3 separate regions of the Homo sapiens genome follow, and all the other regions are linked to region 3. Evidence: fine-mapped expression QTL. A gene starts in region 3. Each other region holds a variant in brackets. All regions are shown on one strand. Distances are between the middles of the regions.

Evidence for each region. PIP is the estimated chance that this variant, and not a neighbour inherited with it, causes the effect.
Region 1: its variant is the best candidate, but not a certain one, in a credible set for the expression of TTC9C in sigmoid colon (GTEx, PIP 0.62).
Region 2: its variant is the best candidate, but not a certain one, in a credible set for the expression of TTC9C in lymphoblastoid cells (GEUVADIS, PIP 0.60).

The regions. Positions count from the first base shown.
Region 1 is chr11:62,683,322-62,686,162 of GRCh38, reverse strand. No RefSeq gene overlaps it. Among named protein-coding and RNA genes, the nearest start is that of LRRN4CL, 4.8 kb to the left of the region's middle. The variant A/TA (reference allele first, on the strand shown) is at 1,316.
Region 2 is chr11:62,695,187-62,697,686 of GRCh38, reverse strand. The region is part of intron 3 of BSCL2 (BSCL2 lipid droplet biogenesis associated, seipin); the gene reads left to right. All of the region lies in intron 16 of HNRNPUL2-BSCL2 (HNRNPUL2-BSCL2 readthrough (NMD candidate)), which reads left to right. Among named protein-coding and RNA genes, the nearest start is that of LRRN4CL, 6.9 kb to the right of the region's middle. The variant T/A (reference allele first, on the strand shown) is at 1,215.
Region 3 is chr11:62,727,022-62,729,862 of GRCh38, reverse strand. TTC9C (tetratricopeptide repeat domain 9C) reads right to left here and starts at 1,377. Exons shown (of 3, transcript NM_173810.4): 1 at 777-1,377. The coding sequence starts at 1,014. HNRNPUL2 (heterogeneous nuclear ribonucleoprotein U like 2) reads left to right here and starts at 2,406. Exons shown (of 14, transcript NM_001079559.3): 1 at 2,406-2,841. The coding sequence starts at 2,707. It overlaps HNRNPUL2-BSCL2 (HNRNPUL2-BSCL2 readthrough (NMD candidate)), which reads left to right and starts at 2,479. Exons shown (of 24, transcript NR_037946.1): 1 at 2,479-2,841. RefSeq lists enhancers at 996-1,105, 1,496-1,695, 1,946-1,995 and silencers at 2,256-2,415, 2,586-2,841.

The DNA of each region.
Region 1 (2,841 bases), 44 kb after region 3:
TTTGTATTTTTTTAGTAGAGATGGGGTTTCACCATGTTGGCCAGGATGGTCTCGATCTCTTGACCTCATGATCCACCCGCCTCGGCCTCCCAAAGTGTTGGGATTACAGGCCTGAGCCACCGCCCCCGGCCTTGAATTTTTTTTAATTAAACGAATGTAGAAAAGTCTGTTTTGTGTTACTACACAGTATAATCCTTACCTGTGTGGATATTATAACTTTTTAAATAATATATATGTATATATTTTATAGAGATGGGGGGGTCTCACTATTTTGCTCAGGCTAGACTTGAACTCCTGGGCTCAAATGATTCACCCCCCTTGGCCTCCCAAAGTGCTGGGATTACAGGCCATTCTAACTTTTTTTAATTATAAAAGTAACACATGGGCCAGGTGTGGTGGCTCACGCCTGTAATCCCAGCACTTTGGAAGGCTGAGGTGGGCAGATCATGAGGTCAGGAGATCGAGACCATCCTGGCTAACACGGTGAAACCCCGTCTCTACTAAAAATACAAAAAATCAGCTGGGCTTGGTGGCATGTGCCTGTAATCCCAGCTACTCAGGAGGCTGAGGCAGGAGAATCTTTTGAACCTGGGAGGCGGATGCTGCAGTGAGCTGAGATCACGCCACTGTATGCCAGCCTGGGCGGCGTAGCGAGACTCCATCTCAAAAAAAAAAAAAAAAGTAACACATAAGGCGGGCGCAGTGGCACACACCTGTAATCCCAGCACTTTGGGAGGCCGAGGAGGAGGCTGAGGAGGGCGGATCACCTGATGTCAGTTCAAGACCAGCCTGGCAAACAAGGCGAAACCCTGCCTCTACTAAAAATACAAAAATTAGCTGGGCATGGTGGCAGGCACCTGTAATCCCAGCTACTGGGAAGGCTCAGGCAGGAGAATCACTTGAACCAGGGAGGTGGAGGTTACAGTGAGCCAAGATCATGCCACAGCACTCCAGCCTGGAAGACAGAGCAAGACTCCGTCTCAAAAACAGTAAATAAATAAATAAAAATTTAAGCCGGGCGCGATGGCTCACACCTGTAATCCTAGCACTTTGGGAGGCCGAGGCGGGCGGATCTCGAGGTCAGGAGATTGAGGCCATCCTGGCTAACATGGTGAAACCCCGTCTCTACTAAAAATACAAAAAAAATTAGCCAGGCATGGTAGCGGGTGCCTGTAGTCCCAGCTACTGGGGAGGCTGAGGCAGGAGAATGGCGTGAACCCAGGAGGCGGAGCTTGCAGTGAGCCGAGATTGCGCCATTGCACTCCAGCCTGGGCTAGAGCAAGACTCCGTCTCAAAAAAAAAAAAAAATTTTTTT[A/TA]AAGATAAAAGTAACACATACAAATTTCAATTAATACTGAATAATATGGCCCAGTGCAGTGGCTTATGCCTGTACCCAACACTTTGGGAGGCTAAGACAAGAGGCTCGCTTGAGACCAGGGGTTCAAAACCAGTTTGGGCAAAATATCAAAACCTTAACTGTACAAAAAATTTAAAAATCAGGACGGGGGCAGTGGCTCATGCCTGTAATCCCAGGACTTTGGGAGGCCAAGGCTGGTGGATCACCTGAGGTTGGGAGTTCAAGACAAGCCTGACCAGCATGGAGAAACCCTGTCTCTACTAAAAATACAAAATTAGCTGGGCATGGTGGTGCACGCCTGTAATCCCAGCTACTCGGGAGGCTGAGGCAGGAGAATCGCTTGAACCCAGAAGGCGGGGCTGGGCGCAGTGGCTCATGTCTGTAATCCCAGCGCTTTGGGAGGCCGAGGCGGCTGGATCACGAGGTCAGGAGACCGAGACCACGGTGAAACCCCGTCTCTACTAAAAATACAAAAAAAATTAGCCGGGTGAGGTGGTGGGCACCTGTAGTCCCAGCTACTCGGGAGGCTGAAGCAGGAGAATGGCATGAACCCGGGAGTCGGAGCTTGCAGTGAGTGGAGATCATGCCACTGCACTCCAACCTGGGCGACAGAGTGAGACTCCATCTCAAAAAAAAAGAAAAAGAAAAAGAAAAAAGAAAAGAAGAAAAGAACTCAGAAGGTGGAAGTTTCAGTGAGCCCAGATCACGCCATTGCAGTCCAGCCTGGGCAACAAGTGTGAAACTGCGTCTCAAAAAAAAAAAAAAAAAAAAAAGAAGGCCAGGCATGGTGGCTCATGCCTAAAACCCAGCACTTTGGGAGGCTGAAGCAGCTGGATCACCTGAGGTCAGGAGTTTGAGACCAGCCTGACCAACAAGATGAAACCCCATCTCTACTAAAATACAAAAATTAGCTGGGTGTGGTGGCAGGCACCTGTAGTCCCAGCTACTTGGGAGGCTGACAAAGGAGAGTTGCTTGAACCCAAGAGGTGGAGGTTGCAGTGAGCTGACACCACGCCACTGCACTCCAGCCTGGGCTACGGAGTGAGACTCCATCTCAAAAAAAAAATTTATTCTATTATAGAACCTCTACAATAAATTTAGAATACTATGTTATCCCCGCTGGGCTTAATGGCTCAACCTGTAATCCCAGGACTTTGGGAGGCCAAGGTGGGCAGATCACTTGAGGTCACGTGTTCAAGACCAGCCTGGCCAACATGATGAAACCTCATTTCTACTAAAAATACAAAAAATAGCTGGGTGTGGTGGCGGGCGCCTGTAGTCCCAGCTACTCGGGAGGCTGAGGCAGGAGAATCGCTTGAACCAGGGAGGCAGAGGTTGCAGTGAGTTGAGATCGTGCCACTGCACTCCAGCTTGGGTAATGAGTGAGATTCCATCTCTAAAAACAAAAAAAGAATACATATGTTATCCTGAATACACTTGTTATAATACTGCAGTGAATACCCTGTGCCTTTTTTCCTTTTTTTTTT
Region 2 (2,500 bases), 32 kb after region 3:
GAGTAGCTGAGATTACAGGCGCATGCCACCATGTCCAGCTAATTTTTGTATTTTTTTTTTTTTAGTAGAGACGGGGTTTCACCACGTTGACCAGGCTGGTCTGGAACTCCTGTCCTGGTGATCTACCTGCCTTGGCCTCCCAAAGTGCTGGGATTACAGGCATGAGCCACTGTGCCGGGCCCAAAGCGGATCTTTTAAGGAAGGGTGAATATTACATGGGAATGTTAGAGAAGGGGGAGAATCTGCCCATCAAGCAGGCAATTGTGGACAAAGGCATGGAATTTTTTTTTTTTTTTTTTTTTGAGACGGAGTTGCCCAGGCTGGAGTGCAGTGACATGATCTCGGCTCACTGCAAGCTCCGCCTCCCGGGTTCACGCCATTCTCCTGCCTCAGCCTCCCAAGTAGCTGGGACTACAGGCGCCCACCACCATGCCCGGCTAATTTTTTTGTATTTTCAGTAGAGACAGGGTTTCACCGTGTTAGCCAGGATGGTCTCGATCTCCTGACCTCGTCTTCTGCCCGCCTTGGCCTCCCAAAGTGCTGGGATTACAGGCATGAGCCACCGCGCCCGGCCGGCATGGATTTATTCACAAGGTTTTAGTATTAAATTCTGTGGATCCCTTTGGAGGAGATTAATTTTTTTTTTTTTGAATTGGGGTCTCATTCTGTCACCCCGGTTGGAGTGCAGTGGCCCAATCATAGCTCATTGTAGCCTCAAACTCCTGGGCTCAAGGGATCCTCCTGCCTCAGTCTCCTCAGCAGCTGGGACTGCAGGCATGCACCACCACACCTGGCTAAGAGAACTACCTATTTTAATGTTTCAAAGAATTTGGGCCAAGGGCAGTGGCTCACACCTATAATCCCAGCACTTTGGGAGGCCAAGGCAGGATTGCTTGAGTCCAGCAGTTCAAGACCAGCTTGGGCAGCATAATGAGACCCCGTCTCTACAAAAAAATAAAAAATTAGCTGGGTGTGGTGGCACATGCCTGTAGTTCCAGCTACTCAGGAGGCTGAGACAGGAAGATCAACTGAGCCCAGGAGGTTGAGGCTGCCAGTGAGCTGTGATCACACCACTGCACTCCAGCCTTTGTGACAAGAGCGAGATCCTGTCTCAAAAAAGAAAAGAATTAATAGACTGGGGGAGTGGTTGAGGGGAAGAATTCATAGGCTGAGCAACAAAGCAAGACCCCTGTCTCTCCAAAAAAAAAAAAAAA[T/A]TTTTAGTTGCATGTGGTTGCATGTGCCTATAGTCCGTATGGTCCCAGGTACTTAGGAGGCAGAGGCAGGAGGATAGATTGAGCCCAGAAGTTCCAGGCACAGTGAGCCATGATCATGCCACTGCCTTCCAGCCTGTGACAGAGCAAGACCTTGTCTTCACACACACACACACACACACACACACACACACACAAAAAGTTTATGAAGCAACTGGCTTAATCATCTGGTCTCTACAGGGGGGTAGGAATCTCATGGAATCCATTTTCTTCAACAGATAGTTTTTTGTTTGTTTGTTTGTTTTGAGACAGAATCTTGCTCTGTCACCCAGGCTGGAGTACAGTGGCACGATCTCAGCTCACTGCAACCTCCGCCTCTCGGGTTCAAGCAGCTCTCTGCCTCAGCCTCCGAGTAGCTGGGATTACAGGTGCCTGCTACCACGCCCGGCTAATTTTTGTATTTTTAGTAGAGACAGAGTTTCACCATCTTGGCCAGGCTGGTCTTGAACTCCTGACCTTGTGATACACTCGTCTCAGCCTCCCAAAGTGCTGGGATTACAGGCATGAGCCAACCGCGCCCGGCCAACAGATAGTTCTGACTGGCAATAAGAAGGTACAAAAAAAGGCCCCTATCAGTGGTGTCAACCATTGCCTTAGTGATAAACACTGAAAGCACCCCCAAGGCTGAACCCATGTTTTGGAGGTAGTTCACTATGGGCTAGGGAAGTATTTTCCAAATTTTTTTTTTTTTTTTTTTTTTTTTTGAGACAGAGTTTTGCTCTTGTCGCCCAGGCTGCAGTGCAATGGCGCGCTCTCGGCTCACTGCAATCTCCGCCTCCAGGGTTCAAGCGATTCTCCTGCCTCAGCCTCCTGAGTGGCTGAGATTACAGGCGCCTGCCACCACGTCCATCTAATTTTTGTATTTTTAATAGAGACGGGGGGTTTCACCATGTTGGCCAGGCTGGTCTCGAACTCCTGACCTCAGGTGATCCACCTGCCTTGGCCTCCCAAAGTGCTGGGATTACAGGCATGACTCACTGCACCTGGCTAACCTTTTTTTTTTTTTTTAACCCATTACCTCTAATTAAAAACAGAAGCTTTACCCTCACTCCTGTAATTTTTATATACTACTGTGTGAGGGCCTTGTTGCCAGATATGAATCAATAAAGGGGCTAGAAGAATATAGAAATAGGAAAAACTAGGGCATGTTTGGTGGCAAATCTTTAACCTCTTGAGGGTGATCCCTGTGAAGAAGCCTTCCTACTCTGAGTCTTGGGGCGCTACCAACA
Region 3 (2,841 bases):
GGCTCACGCATGTAATCCCAGCACCTTGGAAGGTAGAGGCGCGTGGATTACCTGAGGTCAGTAGTTCAAGACCAGCCTGACCAATATTATGAAACCCCGTCTCTACTAAAAATACAAAAATTAGCTGGGCATGGTGGCGCATGCCTGTAATCCCAGCTACTCAGGAAGCTGAGGCAGGAGAATCGCTTGAACTCGGGAGGCAGAGGTTGCGGTGAGCCGAAATCACGCCACTGCACTCCAACCTGGGCAACAAGAGCGAAACTCCGTCTCAAAAAAAAAAAAAAAAAAAAAAATTAGCTGGGCGTGGTGGCTGGCGGGCGCCTGTAATCCCGGCTACTGGGCAGGCTAAGACAGGAGAATTGCTTGAACCCGGGACGGGGAGGCTGCAGTGAGCCCAGACCGCGCCAGTGCACTCCAGCCTGGGAGACAGAGCGAGACTCCATCTCAAAAAAAAATAAAATAAAATAAAATAAAATAAAATAAAATAAAAAAATAAAGAAATGCAAACTGATAGGCCCCACGTCAGACCCATCCGAATCTCTGGGGATGGGGCCGAGGAGGTTGTGTTTTAACAGACTCTCCAGGTGAAGTCTGAGAAGCCCTGCTCTATGGCAACTTAATTACAGCCGCACAGATTGACAGGTTATTCCAATTCATGGCAGAATAAATGGATGACAGTAAAAAAAAAAAAAAGTCAGCGTTTTTTCCCCCAATGTTCACAGATGTTCATGTTCCTGTCTTAATGCTCTCTAGCCACCCTTTAGCCCCGTTCTTACCAGCTAGATTGTTATAGCAGTCTGTCTGGGTGGTATGCAATATGTTTTCTTGTTCAGGCGTGAGGGCCGGGCCCTGAGGTCCGAGATTAGGTAACGGAGAGGGCAGACTCGGATCCAGACCCCGCAGCTGAAGCAGAGCTCGATGGTACCTACTCACAGCATCTCGGTACTTCCCTTCCCGGTAGCGCTGGTTCCCTTCCTCCTTGTACAGCTGAGCCTCCTGCAGACGCTTCTCCATAACTGTCGCCCACGGTTCTTGCGGAACTGGGAAGTGAAGGAGCAAGTGAAGCTCTGGGGTTGGGAGCAAAATAACTGACAGTAGCAGCCAATTTAAGGAGGCAGGAAATTACCCTTCTTCCTGGAGAGTCCCCCCACAGGGACCTGCGGTTTGCTTGTTTCTACTGAAAGCCCCACCTCTCCTTTCTGCAGTCTTTTTCTCAAGAAGTGCAGGCAAGTAGTAAGGAAAGGGATGTGGGAATAATGAAGCCCAACATTAAGTGACTTCCTAAAGAGGCGATGTGGGGGTGGATGAGACTTTCCGAAGAACTCAAGCAAGGCCCTACTCAGGAATTGTTGCGGGCGTGAGAACGCCTGGGACACTGGCTTCCGCCTTTCTATTGGACCCGCCCCCCCCCGACCTGGAAGTAGAAGGGAGTGGGCGGGACTAGTGCTAAAACTCCAGAGGGCTTCAAGCAATTCTAACTCTTCTTCCTTATTCAACATTTATTTGTTGACGTCAATAAATAAACTGGGAAGCCGAGGTGAACCACCAGCGACACTGAGGTGTCCACATAAGCGTCACAGCTGCAAGCCCACCCGGCGCCGTGACCAGTTCCTCGCCCTCTGCAGATGCCCAAACCTGGAAGTCTCCTGGGCTTCGGTTTACCAGCAGGAGCAAGGAGAGGAAAGGGTCAGAGATGCGTACAGTTTGGTATCTTGAGGGTCGCGCGCATTGCGCCACACCACCCAATCAGAAGAGGCTCCGGAAAAATAATCCCGCAGAAACGACCCCGCCTCCTCAGCGGACCAACCTGGGAAAAAAAAAAAAAAAAAATTCCCCTGGCAGCTTCGCCAATTGGAAAAATCCGGACGATCACGGATGACCAATCGGAACGGCAAATGACGATTCAAGTTGTCCAATAAGAGAAAAAGGGCGGGTTCAAGGGCCTCTGTTGCTGGGTAGAAGTTGAGGCGTTGAGGAAAAAGGAGGGCCCGGATTACAGTATTTCTTCGTTCTGGGGAGCCCTTTTGCTTCCTAGCCAGAAAAACAATTGCTACTAGGCTTACATGTTGCAACACATTCTCTAATGACTTTTTTTTTGTCGTTACTGCTGCAAGCACAGACAGTAGGGAAAAGAGGCTAGCGACCCCTAAAACGCCACAGCAAATGGAAGTCAGACGGAAGTAAGGGTGGTGGGAGGGGCATGGCATCGGGGAGCTCCGGGCGGCTGCGCAGAACTCCCCGGCTGGAAGTACTGAAAGACCGGCGCGCACACGCTTCCGTGCTACGAGGCACTTGAGCTGCAGCCAGCCTTGCCCGTCTTGGACTCCACTGCGGCTGCGCGATAAAAGCACCGGCGGCGATTGGCCCGGGGGCGCCAGAGGGCGGGAGGAAGCGGGAGGAACTCCGTCGTCCTCCGCGCGCGCCTGCCCGCGGCTGGGGAACCAAGGGCCTGGAGGGGAAACAGCTCCCTGCTGCGTTGTTTTGGGCTCCGTGAGCCGAAAGGGGGAGGGGAGACGAAGGAGAAGCAAACACTGCGCAGCGGGACCGTGCGCGGCCTCCGCTCCTGCGTGCGTGCGCTCGCTCGCGCGGGCTCAGTGCTGGCGCGTGAGGCGGAGGCGGGCGGCGGCGGCGGCGCCTGCGCGGTCGGACTCGGTCGACGGTTCGCAGGGGAGGAGGCGGCGGGAGGCGGAGGAGGCGGCGGCGGCGATGGAGGTGAAGCGGCTGAAAGTGACCGAGCTGCGGTCGGAGCTGCAGCGGCGGGGCCTGGACTCGCGCGGCCTCAAGGTGGATCTGGCGCAGCGGCTGCAGGAGGCGCTGGACGCCGAGATGCTCGAGGACGAG